3 separate regions of the Homo sapiens genome follow, and regions 1 and 2 are each linked to region 3. The links come from fine-mapping of genetic effects on gene expression. A gene starts in region 3. Each other region holds a variant in brackets. All regions are shown on one strand. Distances are from middle to middle.

Region 1 (8,060 bases), 60 kb before region 3:
TTAATTGGGCTTCCTGAGCTACTCTACTGAGACTGCTCTTGCTAAGGCCACCAGGGATGTCTTAGTTGCAGAATCCCTGGCTCGCTTTCTGTCTGCATCTTATTCAGTCTCTGTGAAGCACTTAATGCTGTGGGTCTTTCCACCCTTCTGGAGACTCTCTGCTCCCTCAGCTTCCACGATTGTTTTCTCTTGTTCCTCCTCAGATCTCTTGGTCTTTTTCTGCTCAGTATTTTTTTTTCTGACTCCTCCTATTACGCCCTCCATTTAAATGGGTACTGTTAGTGGGATTCTCTCAATGAGCCCCCTTTCTTCTTCTTCTTCTTGATCCTCAGGGGATGTCGTATTTCCTATGGCTTCAACCACCCTCTAAATCCCAGTCTATGCTCCTCTGCCCCCACACTCTATCCCCTCCATCCCTTATTTCCAATTGCCTCTTAGACAATTCCATCTGGCTTTTGCCTTCTCAAATCTGACCTGTCCAGAGCCACACCACTCCTCCTCCTTCCATGTTCCTTAGTTCTTTTTTCCTTCTGTGGCCCTTGACCCCATTAATGTTTAGTCCATCTGCCAAGTTACACAGCTCAGAATCATATCCTTCCCTCTCATTATCACACCCAGAGAAATGATTCTTGTGTCCACCTGCTCTCCCCATGGTGGCTGCCCCTGCCTTTGTTAGGCCTCCAGTGTTTCTTGCCTGGACTCAGGGTTGGTTTGTCTGGCTGCATAGACTGTGCTGTGCATCGCTCCAGGTGTGTCATTCAGGGCCCTGAGCCCAGGTGCCCTGCACTTATTTCCCAAACTGTAATTCTCACAACAGCTCCCCTGTTTGTAGATGAGAAAACTAAAACTTGAGCATTGAAAGACTCACCCAGTAGCTCACAAATGTAAGCAGCAGAATGGGGATTTGAGTCCGGTTCTTCTGACAGCAAGCCCCAGGTCCAGATTCTGTTGATTCCCCTAAGCATTCTGTATTGCAGTAGGCTCTTGGTGGCCTTCCTTCTGCTCCTGCCCTCCTCCAATCCATCCTCCACACCACCATGACTACCAGCCATGTGATCCCCCTGCTTAGACTCCCATCCTTGCCCTGAGCCCACAAGGTGAAGTCTGAGCTCTGTAGCTGGGCTCTCCACAATTGGCCCTGACCTCCTTCTGTCCCCATCTCCCACCAGTCCTTCTGTATGCCCTGCAATCCCTGTACCCAGGCAAACTGTGCTACCTCATGACCTCATGCCTTTCCACATGCAGTTTCCATTGCAAGGGCTCTCCCTGCTCTTCTGTCTCGGTGATGGATAGATTTCCATTGTCCCAGATCTGCTCAGCAGCCCTCCCCACTGTCCTCAGTGCCCAGGGAGGCTGGCCTGTGTAGACCTGTCCTGAGAGCTCCTGCCAGATGGCACACAGCTCTTCCTCTCTTGGCTCTGGAAACTGCTCCCTGCCCTGCCTCTCTGGACTTGGGGTGCTGAGGGCTCCCAGGGACACTGCACTGCCCTCACCTTTGTGAACAGTCCTGTATTAAACTCTCTTCAGCCTACTCACATACTCTGTTTCCTGCCAGGACCCTGACTGACACATTCCCCACCCCACAATCCTGCCACCTCCCACGTTGTCTTCGAGTCACAGCTCAGGCAGCAGCTCCCTGTGTGCCTTCCCAGTTCCCACAGGCAGCTGGCTGCATCCTCCTCCGCGTTTCACTGGCTCCATTCCTCTGTCCGCACTTGCCACACCCTGTCTGTACCCCCTGAGCTCCTCAGGGCAGTCTCTGAAGCAGACTCAGCTCTGTATCTTGGAGAAGCCAATATGGGGCCAAGGGGGGCGGGGTACGGAGTAAGATGTGCGTATCTTAGAAGAGAGGTCATGCTGGACCACCCCGACACCTGCTTTTCGGTGGTGGGGAGACAATGAGAAAAGAGCTTCTGGCATACAGCAGATGAAAATAACAGGAATTCTCAGGCAAGGACTTGCCTCCTTCACAGCCTTCTGCTCACATTTCTCCACCCTTTGTGGACAAGGAGTGGACAAGCAAGTGTACAAACCTTTGTTGATGATTATTTTGCACTGGGAAGATTTTGCCTAATGCCTCTCTGCATATAACACTTGAAGGAAAGTATTCGTTTGCTTGAAAGCAAAAGGATAAACTTGAGAAAAGAGAAGAGGAAGGGTCCTTACATGCTGCCTTCCAACCACCCCCTCCCCACATTGCCAAAAGAAAGATACAAGACTTTTAAAAAGTAATTGGAGCCGGGAGCGGTGGCTCACGCCTGTAATCCCAGCACTTTGGGAGGCCGAGGCGGGAGGATCACAAGGTCAAGAGATCGAGACCATCCTGGCCAACATGGTGAAACCCCGTCTCTACTAAAAATAGAAAAATTAGCTGAGCGTGGTGGCGCGCGCCTGTAGTCCCAGCTACTCGGGAGGCTGAGGCAGGAGAATCGCTTGAACCAGGGAGGTGGAGGTTGTAGTGAGCCGAGATTGCACCACTGCATTCCAGCCTGGTGACAGAGTGAGACACCATCTCAAAAAAATAAATAAATAAAAATAAAAAATAAAAAAGTAATTGGAAATCAAAACGAGGTCAAATAGGAATGGGTTCATTTTTCTCCCCCACTTTTTTTTAAGGTTTGCCAATGGCCTGGAAGTAAAGGTACACAGTCCTTTAAAAAGCAGCAACATGCCTGTGTCCTGAATGGTATTGCCTAGGTTTTCTCCTAGGGTGTTTATGGTTTTGGGTCTAACATTTAAGTCTTTAATCCATCTTGAATTAATTTTTGTATAAGGTGTAAGGAAGGGATCCAGTTTCAGCTTTCTACATATGGCTAGCCAATTTTCCCAGCACCATTTGTTGAGTAGGGAATCCTTTCCCCATTTCTTGTTTTTGTCAGGTTTGTCAAAGATCAGATAGTTGTAGATGTGTGGTATTATTTCTGAGGGCTCTGTTCTGTTCCATTGGCGCTATTCACAATAGCAAAGACTTGGAACCAACCCAAATGTCCAACAATGATAGACTGGATTAAGAAAATGTGGCACATATACACCATGGAATACTATGCAGCCATAAAAAATGATGAGTTCATGTCCATTGTAGGGACATGGATGGAGCTGGAAACCATCATTCTGAGCAAACTATCGCAAGGACAGAAAACCAAACACCACATGTTCTCACTCATAGGTGGGAATTGAACAATGAGAACACTTGGACACAGGGTGGGGGACATCACACACCAGGGCCTGTTGTGGGGTAGGGGTAGGGGAGAGGGATAGCATTAGGAGATATACCTAATGTAAATGACGAGTTCATGGGTGCAGCACACCAACATGGCACATGTATACATATGTAACAAACCTGCACGTTGTGCACATGTACCCTAGAACTTAAAGTATAATTAAAAAAAAAAAAATATATATATATATATATATAAAAGCAACATGGATGCAGCTGCAGGCCATTATCCTGAGTGAATTAAAACAGAAACAGAAAACCAAAGACTGCATGTTCCTACTTACGAATGGGAGCTAAACAATGGATACACATGGCCATAAAGATGGAAACAACAGACACTGGGGACTCCAAAAGGGAAGAGGGAGA[AG/A]GGGGGACAAGGACTGAAAAAGTTCCCGTTGGTGCTGCGTGCACTGTTTGGGTGACGGGTTCAAAAGAAGCCCAAACTCCAGCCTTGCGCAATATATCCGTGTAACAAACCTACAAATGTAACCCCCTGCATCTAAAATAATAAAATAATTTCTAAAAAACACACAAAAAAGAAAAAGACACTAGATTGTGATTGAGAGTGAGTTGTCCCAGGCCAAATCAGAATGGCCTGGACATTGACCTGAGGGTGGGGCAGGTGAGAATTAGAAATGCTGATGCCTGGAGTACACACAAGCCACCAGCAGTGGCTTGTCATCTTATCTTCAAGTCCTGGGAGGAAGTGCCTTCAGGTGAGTTCTGATTCTGACTTCCTCTTCCTCAGATACAGCATGAGGTAGGCAGGTCAGAGCAACTGGAAAAATAAAAATATTAGAAAAGAAAAGTATCTGGACCTGCCAGCCAGGCATGCTCCCACCCCTGGGAAGCTTGGGGAAGGAGGTGGATACTCTTTCTTCATTTCCCGTCATGGCACATGGGACTCCTCACATGCTGAGCAGGTGGCATGAGAGGTATGGAGTTAGAGTCAGGTACAGAGGGAGTTATGGTGGGAATCCTCAGACGCTCAAGTGGGAACTCAACTGCCTTGGAAAAACAAGATGTGCTTATGATGTGTATCATATCCCTGGATTGGTTTATTTGAAGAAACATGGATGGAAAGTGGACAATCAGTCAGGGATGATAAAGAAATCCAGCACCTCTTACCCACGTGTCCCCTGAAAATCTTACCAACATGAGAATGAATTTGTTGGTGACCATAGAGACATCTATGAAGACATCCAGGACTTGGAAACATAAGAGGAATAAAAAAATCCAGGCTTTCCAGGTGGCATAAATGTAACATGGGACTAATTTCTAGCCCAGGTATAGAGAAAACAATAGTAATACGGGTAATGAATGACATTCAATATTCAAATGATATCTGATGATTAATCAGGCAGATGGTGCAGCAGTTTTCAGAACTTGGTGAAGATTGCTAGGGTTCCAATTCTAATGCAGATACTATAGTGAGTTGAAATATGTCCCTTAGAAAGCTATGTTAGGATATGTTCCTCACCCCGGTACCTGTGAATGTGGATGTTATTTGAATATAGGGAGTTTGCAGATGTAATTAAGGTGAGGTCATATTAGATTAGGGTGGACCCTAAATCCAATGACCAGGGTCCTTACAAGAAGAGGGAAATTTGGACACAGAGACAGAGGAGACACAGGGCAGAATGCCGTGGGAAGGCAGCGGGAGCAGACTAGAGTGACGCTGCTGCAAACCCAAGAATGCCAAGGATTGTTGGCAGCAGCCAGAAGCTAGGAGAGATGTGGAATAGATTCTCCCTGAGAGCCTCTAGAAGGAATCAGCCTTGATTTTTGACTTCTGGCCTCCTGAACTGTGAGAAATGAAATTTCTGTTGTTTTAAGCTATCCGACTTGTAATAATTGTTACAGCAGCCCTAAGAAATTAATACAGATACTACTGGCTGTGTGACCTTAAGAAAATGCACAGGGGTTACCTCTCTGTTTCTTCATCTGTAAAATGGAGATAATAACTGTATCCACTTCATACAGTTGTTGTGAGGATTAGATGAGTTTTTGCCTGTAAAGTGCTTAAGCAGTACCTGACAGATGGTAAACACACAATAGATTAGCAAATATTCTTCTTTGATCACTTCAATTTAGTAAAGATTTTTTTGAGCAACTACTATGCGGCAGACCCTATATGTAAGTTATTTCATTTGATTCTTGTAACAGTCCTGTGAACCTCTTCTTATCCCATTTTGCAGTTAAGAAAACTAAGGCTCAGAGTATTAACTTGTTTTGAGAAAGCAGACGAGCTGCAACCTCGACTGAGCCTTTGGCTCTGTTCTGTCAGGTCTTCTATTCCACAAAATTACAGGCATCTCAGTGTATACTGGGGAGTGGACAAGGAAGGGTGCGAACCTTTGTTGATGATTATTTTGCACTGGGAAGATTTTGCCTAATGCCTCTCTGCATATAACACTTGAAGGAAGGTATTTGCTGGCTTGAAAGCAAGAGGATAAACGAAAAAAGAGAAGAGGAAGAGGTAATTTTCTAGATGATGCTCCTCCAGCATACACCAGTCAAACTAGTGCCCCTAATATTTGTGGTGTGTTCATTTTCTCTCTTTTTTCTGGCTCTGGGAGGGAAGTTGTGTCTCTGAGCACAACCCTCAGGAAGTCCGAGGGTCCTGAAAAGTGTGGGATGGATGGTTTAAGCCCCCCAAATGTGAACAAGCTACATGTATGAACTCAGATAACACAGACACACAGAAGAAATAAATTGGCAGCCTGTGTAAATAGATTTGGTTTTTGACAGCCAATAGCAGGTGATGGTTATTTTGGAGAAATTATGAGTGTTGGAGAGAAATTAAAGTCTTGAAATATATGAAAGGATTTTTGTGTAGTGGTTTTGTGAGGGACACTAGCCTTTTTTTTTTTTTTTTTTTTTTTTTTTTGCCTCCCTGTCAAGTACTGAACAAGAAGAAATTAATTTATCCCAGTACTTGGCATTTAGAAAGTGCTGTGTGGTGGTTTGTGGTTGATTCAAGTAAAGCAGGGGAGGTTTTAGTGGGACATAAGAAAAAACTTAACAGCTGTGAAATTAAAACATAAATTAACTGCTGATGTAGGCCATGAGGGTGCCTTAGCTAGACTTTCAGAAGATAAAGATGCATTTGTCTGGCTCTCGCTAGGTCTTAAAACCTCAATTGGTTGCTTATTCGTTACTCTAGGCACACAGTAGATCTTTGTAACAATAAGTTAGACATTTGTATAATTTTATTCATTGAAGAAACCTTAGGAATCAGCTCTTATATTTGCATTTCTCTGCCTGCAGTTGAAGTGATGAGCTTGACTGTCTCTCGAGGTCTCTCCCAGCCCTGGAATCCCAGGCTTCCTTCCAGACTGTGCTGCGATGAAGCAGATCTGTGATATACATCCCAGTCATGGTGACAAGGGGCGACTTGACAGTGTGGCCCCACACTTCAGGTGTCTGTGGAAGTCAGGCTGTGAAGTAAGGAGACCAGTTCCATGAGGGATTTCAGGCACCATTTCATGAGTTTATTACCCTTCTTTTTTGCCAAATAGCCCTGAGGAAGGTAGTCATCAAATCGAGAATGGCTAAAATGAGGAATGAAGAAGATGGAAATTACAATAACTTCAAATAAAAGCAAGCCAGCTGATGTGATTAAAAAGCCCTGTATATACAGTGGGGGGAAAATGATAATCAGACCAAAGCAGTCATAAGAGAGAACAGTGATCAAGATGGGAGACAATGTTATATAAAGATTAAATTAAAAATAAATAAGATAGATGAGGAAAAGAATGAGTAACAGCTGCGACAGGAGTGTGAAACTGTGTTCATGCTGCAGGGCTGGTTGAGAAGAGAAAAAGACACACCAGTAGGCAGGCAGCATGCTGGGGATAGGAGTAAGGGGTGCATTCTTCCTATAGTGTCTGGTGGTGTTCTATCAGTGAAGCATTTGGAGACTCTCGTCAACCCACCACCCCTTCTGATATTTTCCCCAGTCCCTCTAAGGATAACACATTGGGCCCCCCAGAATCACATGGGCTGGGACGCTTAGGGAACCCTTCTTCCCGAGACCAGGAGTCATGCTGGATTTCCCAGGACCATGCCTTCACAGTTAGGCCTCATTTATCTGGTCTTGAGCAGCAGGTTGATTCTGTTTTCCGACTTCTGCATGTGTCACATTGTGCTTCTTACTTTCCCAGAGGTTTTCCTTAAGAATACCACTTGATTTTGTCTCCACCATCTTCAGGTGACTTGGTACCTTATCTTTATCAGCTGGTTTCATTTCGCTCTGTGCTGCAGCATGTCTTTTGGGGTTAGGAATGCCCATGCGTTCCAGGACCTCAAGAGAAAAATCTCTATACCACACACTGGAGACTCCCCTAGCCCCACCGAGAGATACTGATGTTGGGAGAACAAGAAATATTTCTCTTTGTTTTTCCACTTGACATTTCTAAGTTTGTTTCCACAGTTTTCAAGTATTTGTACAACATTTCATGGGTTAGAGAATATTTGTGCATCTGTTGTCGCATCTGAACCTTATAATCACCCTGAAAGATGTTTTTATTATTCTCACTTCAACGATTAAAAAAGAAGAAGGTTGAGAGAAGGAAAATAATTTGCTCAAGGCCCCTTGGTAGTCTACATCCTCTACCCTAAAGTTCTGTTTTGGGCTATGGCAGGAGAGAATTGCGTGGCAGGTCCTGGGCTTGCTGGGAGAGACCCAGTGGATCTTGAGCAGGAGGCGAGGAACATGGATGTAGACTCAGGAAACCTTGCAGGTGACTGGAGACCTTTCACAGCCTCTGCAGTCCTAAAGTCAGCAGGCAGTCCCCATGGAGATGAGGGGCATTAGAGGTAGAATGCTAATACCTGGGGG
Region 2 (8,060 bases), 39 kb before region 3:
TTGATCCGTGTGGCAAAGCACTTTTATGGGCTTATGTAAAACTAAACTGGATTTGTACAGAAATAATGCAGTATAATGATGCTTTTTTTAAAAAAAAAAAAAATCTAGTAAATTCCAGAGAATGGCCAGATTTTGGAACTCAAAAAGGCTGCTTTCTCAAGGTTCCACTTGTTTACCCTTTGTACCTCACTGCCTTCAATCTTTAAACCTCTGCTTTAGTCTCCAAAGGCCTGTATGTCGTCATGAGGTGGGAGCAACTGCTTCACTGTGATCTAGAAGACCCACAGACAAGCATTCATAAAAACTTCTGGAAGGGACTTTTTAAAGCTGCTATTTACCAGAGTTCTCCCTCTTGGGTGCAGACATGGCTAATTAATGATAAAATCCCAGCGTGTGTGATTCTTGCATTTTGGGGTTGAAGGCAGAACCAGTTTTCTTGCCCTGCAGGCCAGAAGGTGGGGTAACTAAGTGGGGTAGGCCTAGCAGGCAGGAGCCAGCATGGCTGTGCAGAAAGCAGATGGTGAAGACACAGCCCCTCCCAGGCACAGGCTGCCTCTACTGACCACCTTTAAGTAATCACCTCCCTAACGAGGTCCCCATATAGAATCCTCTAAAAGTAGACTTTTTAATGGTGAAGCAAGGAGAGCCTAAAAGGTCAAGGGACATCAGAACTCACATAGCCATTTATGAGTACAGTGAGGAGCTGTTTAGCCCCTTCTGACTCCCTGAGTGGTAGATAGGAAGGGCAATTCTTTTATGTGTATGTATGTAGTCATTCTGTGAAACAGTTAGAGTAGCTTGATTATGTGTTCCAGTGCAGAGGGCTCTTTATGAAACATGCTACAGTGTCCTTTTACTGTGAATAGAAATATAACCTTCACATTAAAGGAGTAAAATAAAGGATAAATTAAACCATTTAATTTATTAATTTAATTATTAAACTGTTTACCACTCAGTATGCAGATCTAGAACTCTTAATGCAACAATTTCCTCACATGTAGAAACTATCATACTAGCTCAGACCAAAGATCCATTTGGCTCAGGAATTTTCCTGTGCTGCTATGGTGGAGGCTATGCTATCTGATGCACAGCCTTTTGGATGTTAGCATACATAAGTAAGAGGTGATTCCCTTAGTCGCTTTATGTTTCTACTATGATAAAAATTGTTCCACCTTTCCTGCACTGCTTTTTCTTTTCTGTCTTAATTGCCTCTTGGTGCAGTGAATTCCATAGTCAGGATAAAACATTTCTTGAGCATTTACTATATGCCAGGCACTGTGGTAGGTGCTATCATATATTCAGTTTTTCAGTGCAGTTACAGAAATACCGTAGAGAACAACGGGTGGAGGGAGGATAGGAAGGAAATGGGAGGCTGAAGGATGGGATGCCCTTTCCAGCATGGGGAAGGCAGAACCAGTAAACCTAAAGTCTGCATTTCCTACTTTTTCAGGGGAATCAGGTAGAGGTTAGGGTCAGCTGCTGATCCTAGTAAAAAATACTAGTAAAATGTGAAAATGAAGTGTTATCAATATTAACCATTAAAACCAGCCTACTTCCTTACAGCCACTTTGGGCTTATAGATGGTTGAATATGTGAGTATGTTGCACATGTTTGTCCTTGATAAAGGTGGCAGAATAGAGATTTGAGCTGGAGTCTATATTCTTAAGATGCTCAGTTCTGAGCATAGCCCATCATCCATTGTCATCTTGTGATGCCTGAGAAATACAGGTCCTCTGTGAAGTCATTCTCCCACCACCTTTATCCTCTTATTTAAATCTGAGGGATTCCTTCCAAAGATAAATTTAGAAATTCGATTCCTACCCCTGTCTAATCCCATAGATCAGGGACATTTGTTTGAGGATCTTTAAATTTTTAATATCATCTTAAAAGCTGGTTAAAGGAAGTATCTGTGATTTACAGAGATGATGGAATTTGTAACACGTCCTCCTTAGGAAAACCTGAGATGTTATAGGAACAAACTCAGTAGTGAATTTAGAATTTTCTATATAACTGTATTTTAAAGGGGGAACTGTATTTTAATCTGTACCCTGGGAATGAAACCGACGGGAAAAGACTAACTCAGTCTTTGCAGATATTTATTCAGTATGAGATATCTGGGTTAATTCATGTAAGAGAAGAAAGTAATGGAATTAAACACTTAATCTCTACATATCATTTGGACTTACCATATTTTATTGTTACAACCTAAAACATTTACCTTTTTTACCTTTTGTAAAGATACCTGGGGGAGCAAAATTCCCAAGAGTCAGAGAAGAAAGTAGAGGAAGGTTTCTGTATAGTGGACACTGGTAGGACAGTGGTAGGCAGAATAAAGTCATACCTAAGGTTTAGTAAACTAGTAACGAGCTTTGCCGTAGACGATTAACCATAGGCAGTCTGCTCTTACTCTCATAAAAGGAATAGGAACCAAAAAATCTCAAGGCCTAGGGGAATAACAGTTTCGGATGTAGGAGCCTTTACTTCTCCCTTTTCACCTGAGAGTTAAGCTTCCTGGCACAGCCTCCTAAGCACAGCACAGCTTGGTGGCTAAAGGAAATGTAGAAAGCTGGAGTGTTCCTAGCCCACATTTGTTAGGGACTGTGTCTTCTAAATCACGCCTTTTTGTGTGTTTTGGGAGTGGGAAGTGTAGGGGCTTCTTGCTTAGGACTGATGCCTACTGCTTCTCAACTTCCTGTGCAGATAGAACAGTCATGTCTTACACACTGCAAGCCTATGGTATGAGAAGGGGCCTAAGCCTGCCCTGTGGACACAGGAGGAAATTAAGGGTAGATGTAGAAAACAGAGGTTCTGATTCGCCACTGGGTGATGGTGGACCCCACAGAAGTTACCCATCTCCTCCTGCTTCGCTTAAGGTTCTTATCTCCCAGAAGTGTCAGGATATTTCAGGTGAGAGACCAATGGAGAATATCTCTGGAGTTAGTCTAATGGCTAAGAAAGGTTAGAGCTGTAAAACAATTACTTCTAGGAGTAGATTTGAACTGAAGAATATAGGGAGCAGTAGAGTTGACTGAGATCTCAAATTGACATGTAGATGATAATTAGTCAAGATGCCTTTCACATTAATATGGATGCTCTGGCCTGAAATAAGCAGAAGGAACATAGAAATGACTCCAGGCTTGAGGAGAAGCAATTCTAGAAGTTATACCCAGCAGAGAATGGACTACAGCAGTTGTTCCATGCACAGGGTTCCAAGGTCCCTAGGAGTTCACAAAGATAGTAATAAGAAAGATGAGCTCATTGTAATATGAGCTTCATTTATACATTTCATATTACCATTAGCTCATCTTTTTTATTACTACCTTCAACAAGGCCTTCTAGACTTATCAAAACACTGGATATCAGTTAGGTAATGTAATACCAGCTACCTCATGCTGATGAAAAGCCCTACTTGATTGCTGCCATTACCTGGGGTGGGTGGGAGGTGGATGTGATTGATGGACTATATGGTGTCAACAGGTGGCCATGGCTGACCTGAAGTCAGATCATCCAAAACACGATGAATGTTAGACTTGAGTATAGGGTGACAATCACAATTAGATTAAATTGTAGCCCATGGTGGTGGGATGCTTGAGGCCCACTGAGGTAAGAGAAGCAGTGTGCTGAGCCCTTCCCAGCCTGAGCTCTGAAACTCTAAATAAACCACATCACTCATTTCTGTCCTTGAAAGAAAGCAAAAGCTGACATCTTCAAACCATAATCAGTTATCCACCTTTGAGGCCATGCCCTGGAACCCCTGCATGTGGCTCTTCCTCACAGCCTGCATGGGTGGCCTAAGACTCTACATAGGAGCAGGCTTCTTTGTCCTCTCTCTCTTCTCCTAGTTAAATGGTGGAATACTGGGAACTAGGGTCAAGTTCTCTTCTTGGGCTCTTAAAGCAAGAGATTAAATACCAAAACAAAAGAAAGGAAGGAGCCACAGAATAGACCCAAGAACGTGAGGTCTTTGGAGTAAGTCTGGGAAAGTGTCACCTTAGATTTAGTTGGCTGCCAACTAGTGGTGTTCCAGAGGAGCTGGGTGCTGAGCTTCCATTGGTTTCTGCTGTTTAGGCCATGGCTTCCAAGCCTCATGTTACCACTGCCCTTGGTCTGCAGGAGCTCCAGGGAAACTCAACATTTGCAGCAGCATTCAAAAAAGAAAAAAATGATAGCCGAGTTCCTCTTAGTTTGATGGACCCATTGAACATTTTATCATGGCTGGCAAAAGATTCTGAAGCATATTGACTACTTCTGTTACACATGGGAGGGAAGAATTGGGGCTAAGTCCATAACTGGCATATTTGCTATCTGTCCTTTCAGTTGACTGATTGTTTCAGCACTGTGGTGACAGTTTCTGTTTTCTGGAGTATTTCAGAAAGGGGAAATGTCTTTGCACTCATTTGTATGTGCATATCTGAACAACTTTAGATTTTTCTGTCTCTTTCTTTGGCTGCTTCATGAGTTTCTATCCACATGCCCCTTGCGCATCCTCACCCATCCTGTTCTTCTCCTTTCTCCTTCCCAGAGCCAAGCTATGAGAATCGTTCGGACGGTGGGGCAGGCCTTTGAGGTCTGCCACAAGCTGAGCCTGCAGCACACGCAGCAGAATGCAGATGGCCAGGAAGATGGAGAGAG[C/T]GAGAGGAACAGCAACAGCTCAGGAGACCCAGGTAGGCACTGCGGCTTCTGTGGATGTGGGTGGGAAGGCAGTGCACACAGTAGGCTCTGGTGGATCACTGCCCTGACCCCCAGGCTGTGAACTCATTTTAAGAAACATTTTATTTTTTCCGTTTCTCTCTAAATTCTAGATTCTCTTTAAGGAACACGTATTACTTTTATAACAGAAATTAAAGATGTTTAAATTATTAAATGAGGAAGTATTTAAACTGGATATCAGGGAGAGGTAGAGCTGCTATACTACCAAATCTGACTTCAAAGAAGTTTTCAGTAAAAAAGCACCCCCATAAAACAAATTAGAAAGAACATAAATTTATAATTACCTAGTTTGTTTTATTAAATTTCTAACTTCTGTAGTTCTATAAGCCCTCAATATGGATAGTATTTTAATATCCCCAACTTTCAAGCCTCATTAAAAGTCAGGAAGGAGGCCGGGCGCAGTGTCTCAAGTCTGTTAATCCTAGCACTTTGGGAGGCTGAGATGAGCAGATCACTTGAGCCCAGGAGTTCAAGACTAGCCTGGCCAACATGGCAAATCCCTGCCATGTTGCCTGTATTTTCTACTAAAAATACAAAAATTAGCCAGGCGTGGTGGTACACGCCTATAGTCCCAGCTACTTGGAAGGCTGAGGCAGGAGAATTGCTTCAACTCAGGAGGCGGAAGTTGCAGTGAGCCAAGATTGTGCCACCGCACTCCAGCTTGGGCTACAGAGCTAGGCTGCCTCAAAAAAAAAAAAGTCAGGAAGGAGACAATAAATGTGAAAAAATGAAGTATGGGCAAGAAAAAGAGCAGATAAAAAAAATATTGTTTATGTTAATTTTTAACATGGGAAACCCAAGAAAATAAACTGAGAACTATTAGAAATAATAAGAGAATTCAGCTAGAAAGTCAAAGTTCAATAACACATACAGCTATATTTGTGATTTTCATATATTCCAAGAACAGCTGGTTAGAAGTCATAGTGGAGGAAAAAAATCCATTAAAATAACAATTAAAAAAAAAGATACTTATGAATAATCACAATAAAAATGTGTTTGTTACCTACGAAAAAATCTTAAACAAATGGAAAGGCATGCCATATTCTTGGATGGGAAAGCTCAACATCATAAAAATGTTAATTCTCTCTTTGTTTATCTATAAATTTAACATGACAATACAGATTTCTTTTCTTTTTTTCTTTTATTATTATACTTTAAGTTTTAGGGTACATGTGCACATTGTGCAGGTTAGTTACATATGTATACATGTGCCGTGCTGGTGCGCTGCACCCACTAACTCATCATCTAGCATTAGGTATATCTCCCAAAGCTATCCCTCCCCCCTCCCCCCACCCCACAACAGTCCCCAGAGTGTGATGTTCCCCTTCCTGTGTCCATGTGATCTCATTGTTCAATTCCCACCTATGAGTGAGAATATGCGGTGTTTGGTTTTTTGTTCTTGCGATAGTTTACTGAGAATGATGATTTCTAACAGCAAAAGAGGTACCACAGTAAGCTACAGTATTCAAAACTCATGGGATATAGCTAAAGCAGCACTCAGAGGAAAATTCAAAGGTTTAGTTATTTACGTTAACAGATGACAAATCATGAAAGTCAAATGAATTAAGCATCCCACTCAAAAAGTTAAAAAACAACAAAAGAAATGCTAGTCTGCAAATGGCAGCATTGCAAAGTGGCTCAGAGAGAAGACCTTTGCTTTGCATTGTAGCTGCACCAGTCACTGCCTGTGTGATCTTGGGCAAGTTCCATAACCTCTCTGTGCTTTAGTTTACTCTTCTGAAAAACAGAAATAGTAGTACTGTGCACTTCAGAATTATTGTCGTAATTAGATAAACTGATACTTTTAAAATGCTGAGCCTGGTGCTTGGCACAGAGTATGCACCACATACATGTATGCTATTATTTTTAAGTAAATATGTGAAAATTTAAAAAAACAAGAATAGAAAAAATCCTGGAAAAGATGAATGATAGCAGAGGAGGAGTGGCTTTCCAGTAAAACTGTGCTTATAATAGGTAAAACTCATGTTCAAATAAGTGCCTGAGCGGATCAGAATGGAAACTCATATACAAACCCAGATGTGTTTGCAAATTTAGTGTATGATAGAGAGGGAATCCCTATGGAGAAAAATGTGGAAATCTTTATTGAATTTGAAAATTCATATGCCTTTTGACCCCCAAATTTCCTTCAAATTCCCTTCTAAGAATGAATCCTAAAGGTAAACCCATAAAGGTGTGAAATGATTTCTATATAAGGTTACATAGCAAAGAATTTGTTATAGAACCAAAGGATCAGAAACAGCAAGAGGGAACTTTTAAATAAATTACAATACAATATGGTACAAATAATGGAATACTGCACAACTATTAAGAAGAATAAGTTAGTTCTCTATGAACTGATTTAAAGCCATCTTCAAGATATTTTGCTTACTTAAAAAAGTCAAAGTTTAGAATTGTGAATAAAGGAAAAAAATAGAATTGTGGGTATGAGGTACTACCAATTGTATTAAAAATGTATAGATTTAAATGTGTGTGTATATGTAGGTATATATGTATACACATGCATGCACACACACACATTTCTTATGCATGGAATATCTCCAGAATAGTACACAAGAAACTGGTAACTGTGGTTCATCCTGGGAAAAGGAACTGGGTGGCTGAGGTGGCAGGAAGATTGACTTTTCACTGTACTTTTATGGCCTTTATACTTTGGATATATATTAGTTATAAATCTTGAAAACCTGACATTATTTTCATCCTAGTGCTCAGTTTCTATGTGACTAGAGGGAATTACTTTACTTCTCTTTTGGCTTACTCATTTCTATTAAGTAGTGACATTCTATTACTAATGACAGCATCTCAGTGATCTTGACTCATAAAATATTATCACACAGACGGAGCCTTGCATTTGGTCATGTACCCTTGGCCAGTCTCAGTTTTAGCAGGCCGTAGTACTAATGTGATGTAAACCTTAACATTTTTCCATCTCTGTGATCTAGGGCTTAGAGATAAAACAGAGAGATAGATAGACTTTGGCGAATATTTTATATATCTCTGCTGGTCAATTTTTAGAGCGTAATGGTGACAGTTTCCTATAACTAATATGGAGGACACATCAGACCTCTAGCTGGTTGCTTGGCTCAAAGAACAGAAACCAATCTGCTCATTTCTGAATTGGAGGATTTGCCGTAAGAACTGCTAGCTGGAGAAGATTGAAGTCTTACATTGTTAACTCTTCTTTGGTCATGCCCATGCCCCGTTGGTGGCCTGATTGGCAGAGAGCCACATCCTAACTCTCAGAAGCTTTTAAACCCACAGTCACATTGGCAGCCAGTATACACATGTACAAAGAAAGTTTAACCAGAAAGTAAAGGATATTTTCTCTGGTG
Region 3 (8,060 bases):
CCTTTCTAGATTATCACAACATGTCAACTAGATACAGAGCAGGGCTGCAGATCTAGATGGCAGGTATGTTTATGCTGCATGGGGAGCTATGGCCGCTCTGGAAATAGTGATGGGCTTGTTTTGCAGTGCTGTCGAGCATGTGTGAGTGAGGTGTGAGTTAGCTTCTGCACGTGAGAGCCCAGAGTTGTCTTCCTGTGTGTATTTATTCACGGTACTGAAACATTCGAAGGACAATGGGAGAACATGATTCCCCTCGTGTTCCTCCCAGATAGCCTGGTTTGGAACATTAGCATGTATTGGAAAGTAAGTTGAAGCCACATACTTTGGCAGTTTGGGGGGTATCAGCAATTTCATTTGGTCCATTATGGTGTAGAGAAAGCTCATGAGTCTGGGCATCAGCTTATGTGACTTCTAACCCTGCTCCGCCATGAGCTACCTGTGTGATATTGGGCAAATCTCTCTGCTACTTGGTTTACCCATGTTATTAGTTTAGACTCTAAACTGGAATGGATGAACATCTTCCTGGCTAAAACCCAGTGACTGACATGTGGACAGTAGCATACTTGTGAGTGATGCACACAGGACCCCGAGGACTTGGAATTGCATTCTGTCTTGACCCATCACATTTCTCCGACTGCCAACTTCAGACTCTCCCACTGCAACCTCAGACTTAAAGTAAAGGGAGCTTAAAATACTGGGGGGAAATATGGGAGGCAGAATCTCTCAGTGCCTGTGTAGAGTTTTTAAAATGCGACCCGGTTTTGGTTTAGTCACTGAAAAGTTTGTGGGAGCCTGGCGGTTCCAGGGTGCACACCACTCCTCGTAGCAGGTCCCCTGTCTTGTGTGCTGTGTCCCCCCGAGGTATGCTGGTGCTGGTGGCCCAGGCAGGAGGTGACACTCTCAAAGTGACTGGTCACTACGTAAAATGTGTCTTTCTTTTGTTTGTTTCCCACCTGCTTTCCGAGCCCCTTTCTCGGACAGGTAAGATATCCTGTTTTTTTGTGGATGACTTACATCCCCAGATGCCCTCCTCTGCTTGGGTGTGTGCATGTTGGGGGGTACTGTTGGGAGGGCCACCTGGCTGGGGTCCAGTCATCTCTCTGTCCTCCATTGCCATTATTTTCTGAACCATCAAGCCTCTAGTCCTGAAGCAAGAGAGATAATGTGTGGGGGTCATTAGCGTCATCATCAAGAAAGGGACCCATTGCACATCCTCAGACATAGGGATAAAGGGACCCCCCAGCCAGAGCCCCACTTTCACTTTGAATAGAAGGGCAGTTATCCGGGTCTGACCTCAAGAGCCCCTGAAGACCACTCCCATAGAGGGAGTTTTGAGTGGTTTTTATAAATGGAAAAAGACTTGTGAGCAGTTTCCCTACAATGTCAGTCCATCATGCAATTTTTAAGAATTCATATAAAAGTCAAATTCAATTAAACAAACTTATTAAATGCCTACTATCGTGCAAGACCCTAAGCTGGGCATTGTAGAAGATAAAGAAACACTTCAGGAGCTATGGCCCTCAAGGACCTTACCATTTTAAGACAAGGTGTATTTACTGGAAAGACTTAGACAAGGGTAAAGGGAGTGCATGGTAGGCTATCTTTACATTACTTAAGAATTCAGTGCGTTATAGACTATGTTATGAAGGGTAGAGAGCAAAAAATACAGGAAATCCAAAATGGTGCATAATCCAGAGTTCTGTTTATTACAAAGAGTGTTTTAAAAATAATAATAGCTTATAATTTACTAATCACCTTGACAGGTGTTTTTGGTGCTTGCCTTTTTAAAAACGAGTATGTCTGCTCTGAAAAGTCACTTTAAACCAATAAGGAGACCACCAGGGAAATGTCTGATTTGGGAAGTGGTGGCAATTTGCCTTCCCCGGGCATTTCGTACAGTTTCATTGTTGTCTATGTACTTTCTGGTTTGGGGGGAAATAGTTAAATGGTTTGGTTTCCAAATCTTCTTTGCTAGTTTGCGGATGACGTGATTAAAGAAAATAAGAAGGATGTGGGACCTGACAGGCAAATTGTGCCAAAGTGGATGATGTGGCAAGATACACACTTAGGAGAATCATCAGGAGTTGATGACCCTGCTTGCTGTGGAGCGGGCTGGAAGCTTCTGCTGGTGTGGTGGGTCTATCTGGAGCCCAGCCAGCTTGGGCCCTGTGTCCCAGGGATGCTGTCATGCTGTTCCCTGGCAGGTCCTCACCCTGCAGTGGTGCAGGCCACAGGGCTCATCCGCAGAGAGTAGTCTCCACTTCACTTCCCACAGGTTTTCCTCCCTGCCACCCAAAGGCCCTTAGAATATGGCATACCTAGGTAGTTGGCCTAGAAAGGATAGCACCACTGAAACCACAAGAAAGGTTTTCACTGGCCCGGGATACAGCAGTGCAGGGCAGAAAGAACTGCTTTACACAAAAATTCAGCAGAAGAAAAAGTACACCCTAACCCCAGTTACTCTTAGAAGAGGCTCAGTGAAAATAGACACTTAGCAGAGGTGTTCACAAGGAAAGGAGCCTAGTCATCAAATGATCGAGCGATCTCCTTTCCTCAGACTGACAACATATCTGGGGTAGTTGGTGTAGACAGAAACCTTGACCCAGATTCCAAGGCCTCAGAGTGGGTCTGGCTGCCTGATGACTGAGCTGGATTTCCAGATAGGGAGAGGATGGCCAAGTGTGAGTGTGTGGACAGCATGGCTTAGAGCCTGGAGCTCCAGTCATTTCAATAACAAACCTTTAAGCTACCACCTTGGCCACCACAATTTTCTATCTACAAAATGGGTTTTGGCGATTCAAGATCTGTATTGAGCACAGCTAGGTACCAAACCCAGGCTAGGTGTTGAAAATACAAAGATGAATGAGGCATGCTCTCTGCCTTGCAAATCTTTACAACCTAATGGGTTTATACCCAGCTCTTTGAGTTAATTTTTCAAGCCAAAGAGGATCCCTACAAGAAGGACCATGTACCAGGCATATATAGGCAGCTGTTCCATGATCTATAGCAGGGCAAAGTTGTGGACAGAGCCCTGAGCTGTGGGTTAGAAGGCCTGAGTTCTAGCTCCAGCCCTGCTAGTATTTAGCTGTGTGACCTCAGGCACGGCACTGCATTACGCGGAGTCCTGCAGGCTTCATCTGTAGGTAGATATCCTTCCATGTACCACCTCCCTAGGTGGTTGTAAGGATTAAGTAAGCTGATGTTCATTGGGATCCTCGTGCTTCACTGGCACCGAGTTCCTATCCATTTGGTACGAACTGATTCTGAACCACCACTTAGCACCTCTGCAAGAGCTGGCCCACTCGCTCAAGGCCCACCTCTGTAGACCTGAGGAGCTGCTGCCCCATTTTTTGTGGAGAATATGTGCTATACTCATGGCCTTCAGTGGGGAGCTTCTAACACCAAGCCTCATCCATGCCATCCCTCCACCAGCTTCCAACCCACTGAGAGCTCAGCACGTGCTTACGGTGATGTAAAAATGTCATGTTTCATTGCTTCATCCTCATTTTTTCTTTACTCCAAAGGGCGTGGTGACTCCAAGGTAAAGGGGCCAAGCCCATGAGTCAAGGAGGCAGGTTTACAGGAACAACTTTATTTTTTTATGGCTAGCATTAGTCACTGATTAACTTGGGTGGGGCAGAGCTAGAATTTCTAGTTCCTGTCCCATCAAGAAAACTACACTGGAAAGTTCAAGAGTGTCTTTGCTGGCTCTTTCTTGAATATTTCCAAAGCCTTGGAAGTTACAGGTTTTGGGTGTGGGATAAGGAAAAACTGAATGATAGAGCACAGGTACCGCTCCCCTTTCCTCATCATGCCTCTCTGTCGCCTCTTTGTTCATAGTTGACCACGGCATGTTTGAGAATTTGAACACAGCCCTCACTCCAAAGCTCCAGGCCAGCCGCTCCTTCCCCCACTTGTCCAAGCCCGTGGCCCCCGGCTCTGCCCCTCTGGGCTCTGGTGAGCCTGGGGGGCCAGGACTCTGGGTGGGCAGCAGCCAGCACCTCAAGAACCTGGGCAAAGCCATGGGGGCCAAAGTGAATGACTTCCTGAGGAGAAAGGAGCCCTCCAGCCTGGGCAGTGTGGGTGTGACAGAGATCAACAAGACTGCAGGAGCACAGCTGGCCAGTGGGACTGACGCGGCTCCAGAGGCTTGGCTAGAGGATGAAAGGTGAGCCCCTCACCCGCCCAACATCCATGCCCCTCTGTGGACCCACTTGAAAAGGTACAGGGACAAACTGCAGTGTCTGCACAGGAGAACAGCCCCAAGGGAGGGGTGTGAGATTGTCCTGTACTGAAAAGCTGCAGGATCAGGCCACGTTCTCGGGAGCTGGCTTCACCTTCTGCAGCCACAGCTGAAGGTTGCTGAGTGCCCACCATGTCCTCGGCTCTGTGCTGCTGAAGGTTGCTGAGTGCACACCATGTCCTCAGCTCTGTGCTGCAGGCTATAGTTGCATCATTTTGTCTAACCCTCCCAGCAGCCCTGGGAGGTAGATGATATTTCCATCCTGCAGATAACTCACGTTCAGACAGACAAAGTAAATAGCTTGAGGTCACAAAGATAGTACTTGGCAGAGCTGGATTTGAACCCAGCTATTGCCCAGAAGGTCCCCAGGTAGATTCTGATGCCCGGCCATAGCTGAGAAGCGCTGCCGTAGACTGTTGCTTGTGGAGAAGCCTGCACCTGTCACAGCCCACTAGGGCACAGTGGGAGAAGCCCCCTGTAGCAGCCCTCCTGTTCTTCCCCCTCCTACCAACAGGCTCTTTCCAGGCCTTGTTTTAAACACCTGTGCATCTGAGGTGGGAATGCCCTCACATTCCCTGTTTTAAACACAGGACTTACTGCCTGGGTTCTGATTTGACAAGCTTCACCAGCGGTCTCTATCCTGTCTTCTAGAGGCCAGCACTTTGTGCTGCTCTGAACACTGAGTAAGCATGGACCAGGCCAAAAGCTACTGTTATGCTGAAATTGCTAAGGCCTATGTGCCAAACCAAGAACCAGAGCCCAAGGAGTAGAGCAGTTATTGGGTGGGGTGGGTTGAAAGTGCAGTTGGAGTTGGAGAAGCAAGATGGCAGGTGGATTGGTGTCTTGCTGTCCTTAAGGCATGTGTGTTTATTGTCATTAACCTTACAGGTCAGTCCTGCAAGAAACATTTCCTCGGCTGGATCCTCCACCTCCCATAACCAGAAAGCGAACCCCTCGGGCCCTGAAGACCACCCAGGACATGCTGATTTCATCACAGCCTGTCCTCAGCAGTCTGGAGTATGGGACAGAGCCATCACCTGGGCAGGCCCAGGACTCCGCTCCCACTGCCCAGCCTGACGTCCCAGCAGACGCTTCACAGCCAGAGGCCACCATGGAAAGAGAAGAGAGAGGCAAAGTTCTGCCCAATGGAGAGGTTTCCCTGTCAGTACCTGACCTAATCCACAAGGATAGCCAGGACGAATCCAAGCTAAAGATGACTGAGTGCAGAAGGGCCTCCTCCCCCAGCCTTATCGAGAGGAATGGCTTCAAACTCAGCTTGAGCCCCATCAGCCTGGCTGAGTCCTGGGAGGATGGCAGCCCCCCTCCTCAGGCACGGACCTCCAGCCTCGACAATGAGGGCCCTCACCCAGACCTGCTGTCCTTTGAATAGAGCCTCTGCTCTTTCCTGCTGAGCTCTGCCCTTGTCTTCCTGCTGCTTTCTCCTCCACTGCGCACACTGGCCCTGGCCTCAACTCCGCTGTGCCCTTTGTCTTCCTTGTATGAGGCACCAGCAGAGAGCCAGTCGTCCATCATGGGATTTTGCAGGACTGGAAGTCCTTGAGTAGTTCTAGTTAAAGAGTCTATCCGCAGAATGGCTGAAGGACTTGATGCCGTTTTGAGCCTAATTTTCTGTAACCTCCTCTGAGTGGGCTGCAGCCCTTGGACATTAGAGCTCTTCCACTCTTGAGCTTGTCCTGTCTTCTCAGTGAATTGCAGGGCCACCAGCTCAGGACAATGGATCTTACAGGAATTCTTTTTGCCTGTCCCCTACATGCGCCTCCTCCCCTGCTGTTCTCCCTCCCACACCCCTGTCCCTTCTCTCTCCTCCTTGATGGGTCCGATGCCCCTGGCCTCAGCGGGAGGAAGGCTGGATGAGGAATGATGTGTTTGGCTTGATGACAGGCCATGGCCTAGAAAGCCACACACCCTGACCACAGCCCAGCCATAGCTCCTCTTGGTCCCAGGACAGTGCAGGCCCCTGGTTGCCATGTTTGCTCTGCCCCTGGGGTGGAGGCCAGAGGAGATGCTTACCAGGCCTGAGACCTTGAGAGTTCACCCAGGGTTTGAACGCTGCCACCCAGGGTTCCCAAGGTTTCTCCCATCTGGTCAGATGTCGAACACAAAATGTGGGCATTCTGCACGGAAGGAAAGATCAGGCTTCTCTTGCTGAGTGTGTGAAGACAGGGAGAGCCAGGCCCCAGCAGATGCGGCCTAGCACACTCTGATTTGGTTTTGTGGGGAGGGCCCAGGAACTTGGGGGTGGTCTTGGCATTCAGAGCTGGTGCTAAAAACCCAGAGCAGAAGCAGGGAGAAGGGAGTGAGGATGGGACAGAGAAGAGCGACCACTGGGGATCAGAACAGCTTTTCAGGGGCCACCTTGCAGCCTAAAATAATGCCGTTTCAGGGCCTGGGCCTGCTGTGAGAGCCAGAATGAAGCATGTACAAGATTGGAATGTGAGAAGAACTGTGGGGGGAAACCAGTTTTAATTAAGTGGAAGTGCTTTGTGCTTGTGCTGAAGTTGCCTGGGCCTCCTGCAGCTCTGGACCTCACTGGAGCGGCCCCGCCCTGCCCTTGCCTGCCTTTCTTTTATGCTGATGCTGGTGGGCTTTTTCCTGCTTCAGGATCCATGTAAGGGACTGACCAGGTTCATCCAGCCTTAACTGGTTCCTGCAACCCACTTTTAGGTCTCCCACCAGGGGCCTATTGTGCTGTCTTCCTGTGACCAGCAGATCCTGTAAGGGGGTGATCCTAATTCTGGGGCTCTTTGCAGCAAGAGGAGAACGTTCTTTTTCTTGAACAAGGTGGCCGGTTCCCTGGGAGAAGGCTGGGAATGGCACGTCCGGCCAGGGCAGGCGGTGCGGCATCCTCCTCCTGGGATTCCTGTGGCCTCCCCTGTTCTATTCATTGTTTGGCTTCCCACCCATAAGCTCTGGGATACCCAGGGCTTGCTTCCCAGCTCTTCTCATCTCCAAGCCTCTGCTCCCCTTCCCACCACCACTGCCATATAAAATGGCCATGCTAACTCCTACACAACTAGGAGCCTCAGCAGGATTGCTAGGATGTGGGTTCCTTCCTGCATGCTTGCTTCTGCAGCTGTGTGGCCTTGCCATGGCCCTCCCACCACTTTCCCTTCTACCTTGCCTTCCATTGTCTTCCTTCTCCCAGAAAGCCAGGTTTCACCACGTGCTCACCACAAACTGTCTCCCCTCCCTCGTAGGAGTCACTGCAGTAGGGCACCTGCAGGCCCTGGTAGAGTGAGCAGGGCTTACGTGTACATTCTTTCTCACTCTAAGGATGTGATATCTGACCCTGATGTCAGAGAGGAGGTCTCAGGACTAGCATTCGGGGTCCTTTGAGTGTTCCCAGAATGGTTTGGGGTATCACACAAAACACCAGAGCTGAGGATAGGGATAGAGTCCCCAAACACACATCCTGGGAGCAAGCCACTTCATCTGAGCTTCCCATACCAGGAGCATGGTTTGTGCTTTGATGGGAAACCTAGCAAGCCCCTGCACTCTGGGGCTTCTCCTCTCCTGGAGCCCAGGGCGGCTCTGGCCCGATGATATGGCAGCCATAGGTACAGGTATTGCAGGTGCAGCCTTTCTTAAGTACCCTGCCTCCACTCTATAGCCCAGCTGCTGCTGGAGTCCAGGACCTTAGACCCAGGATGAGCAAAAGGATCCCACCAGGTTGTCCAGGACCATTGCCAGGGTGACCCCAGAGTTCTTCAGACCTGTGTCTGATACTGAATACAGTGCCATGGGACCCTGCTCCAATCTAACTGCCTACAACCTGCCCGTCCCCCTGCTGCAGGGA

What was found. PIP is the estimated chance that this variant, and not a neighbour inherited with it, causes the effect. A credible set is the group of variants that fine-mapping cannot tell apart.
Region 1: its variant is the best candidate, but not a certain one, in a credible set for the expression of C1orf226 in whole blood (TOPMed, PIP 0.80).
Region 2: its variant is the best candidate, but not a certain one, in a credible set for the expression of C1orf226 in monocytes (TOPMed, PIP 0.80).

What each region holds. Positions count from the first base shown.
Region 1 is chr1:162,318,338-162,326,397 of GRCh38, forward strand. All of the region lies in intron 4 of NOS1AP (nitric oxide synthase 1 adaptor protein), which reads left to right. LOC124904445 (a long non-coding RNA gene) reads right to left here and starts at 1,151. Exons shown (of 2, transcript XR_007066701.1): 1 at 869-1,151. RefSeq lists an enhancer at 1,473-2,042. The variant AG/A (reference allele first, on the strand shown) is at 3,584.
Region 2 is chr1:162,339,313-162,347,372 of GRCh38, forward strand. NOS1AP (nitric oxide synthase 1 adaptor protein) reads left to right here. Exons shown (of 10, transcript NM_014697.3): 6 at 4,523-4,664. MIR556 (microRNA 556) reads left to right here and starts at 3,234; the gene lies at 3,234-3,328. The variant C/T (reference allele first, on the strand shown) is at 4,633.
Region 3 is chr1:162,378,051-162,386,110 of GRCh38, forward strand. It overlaps C1orf226 (chromosome 1 open reading frame 226), which reads left to right and starts at 3,678. Exons shown (of 2, transcript NM_001085375.2): 1 at 3,678-4,168; 2 at 5,132-8,060. The coding sequence starts at 3,852. The coding sequence ends at 5,633. RefSeq lists a silencer at 4,329-4,623.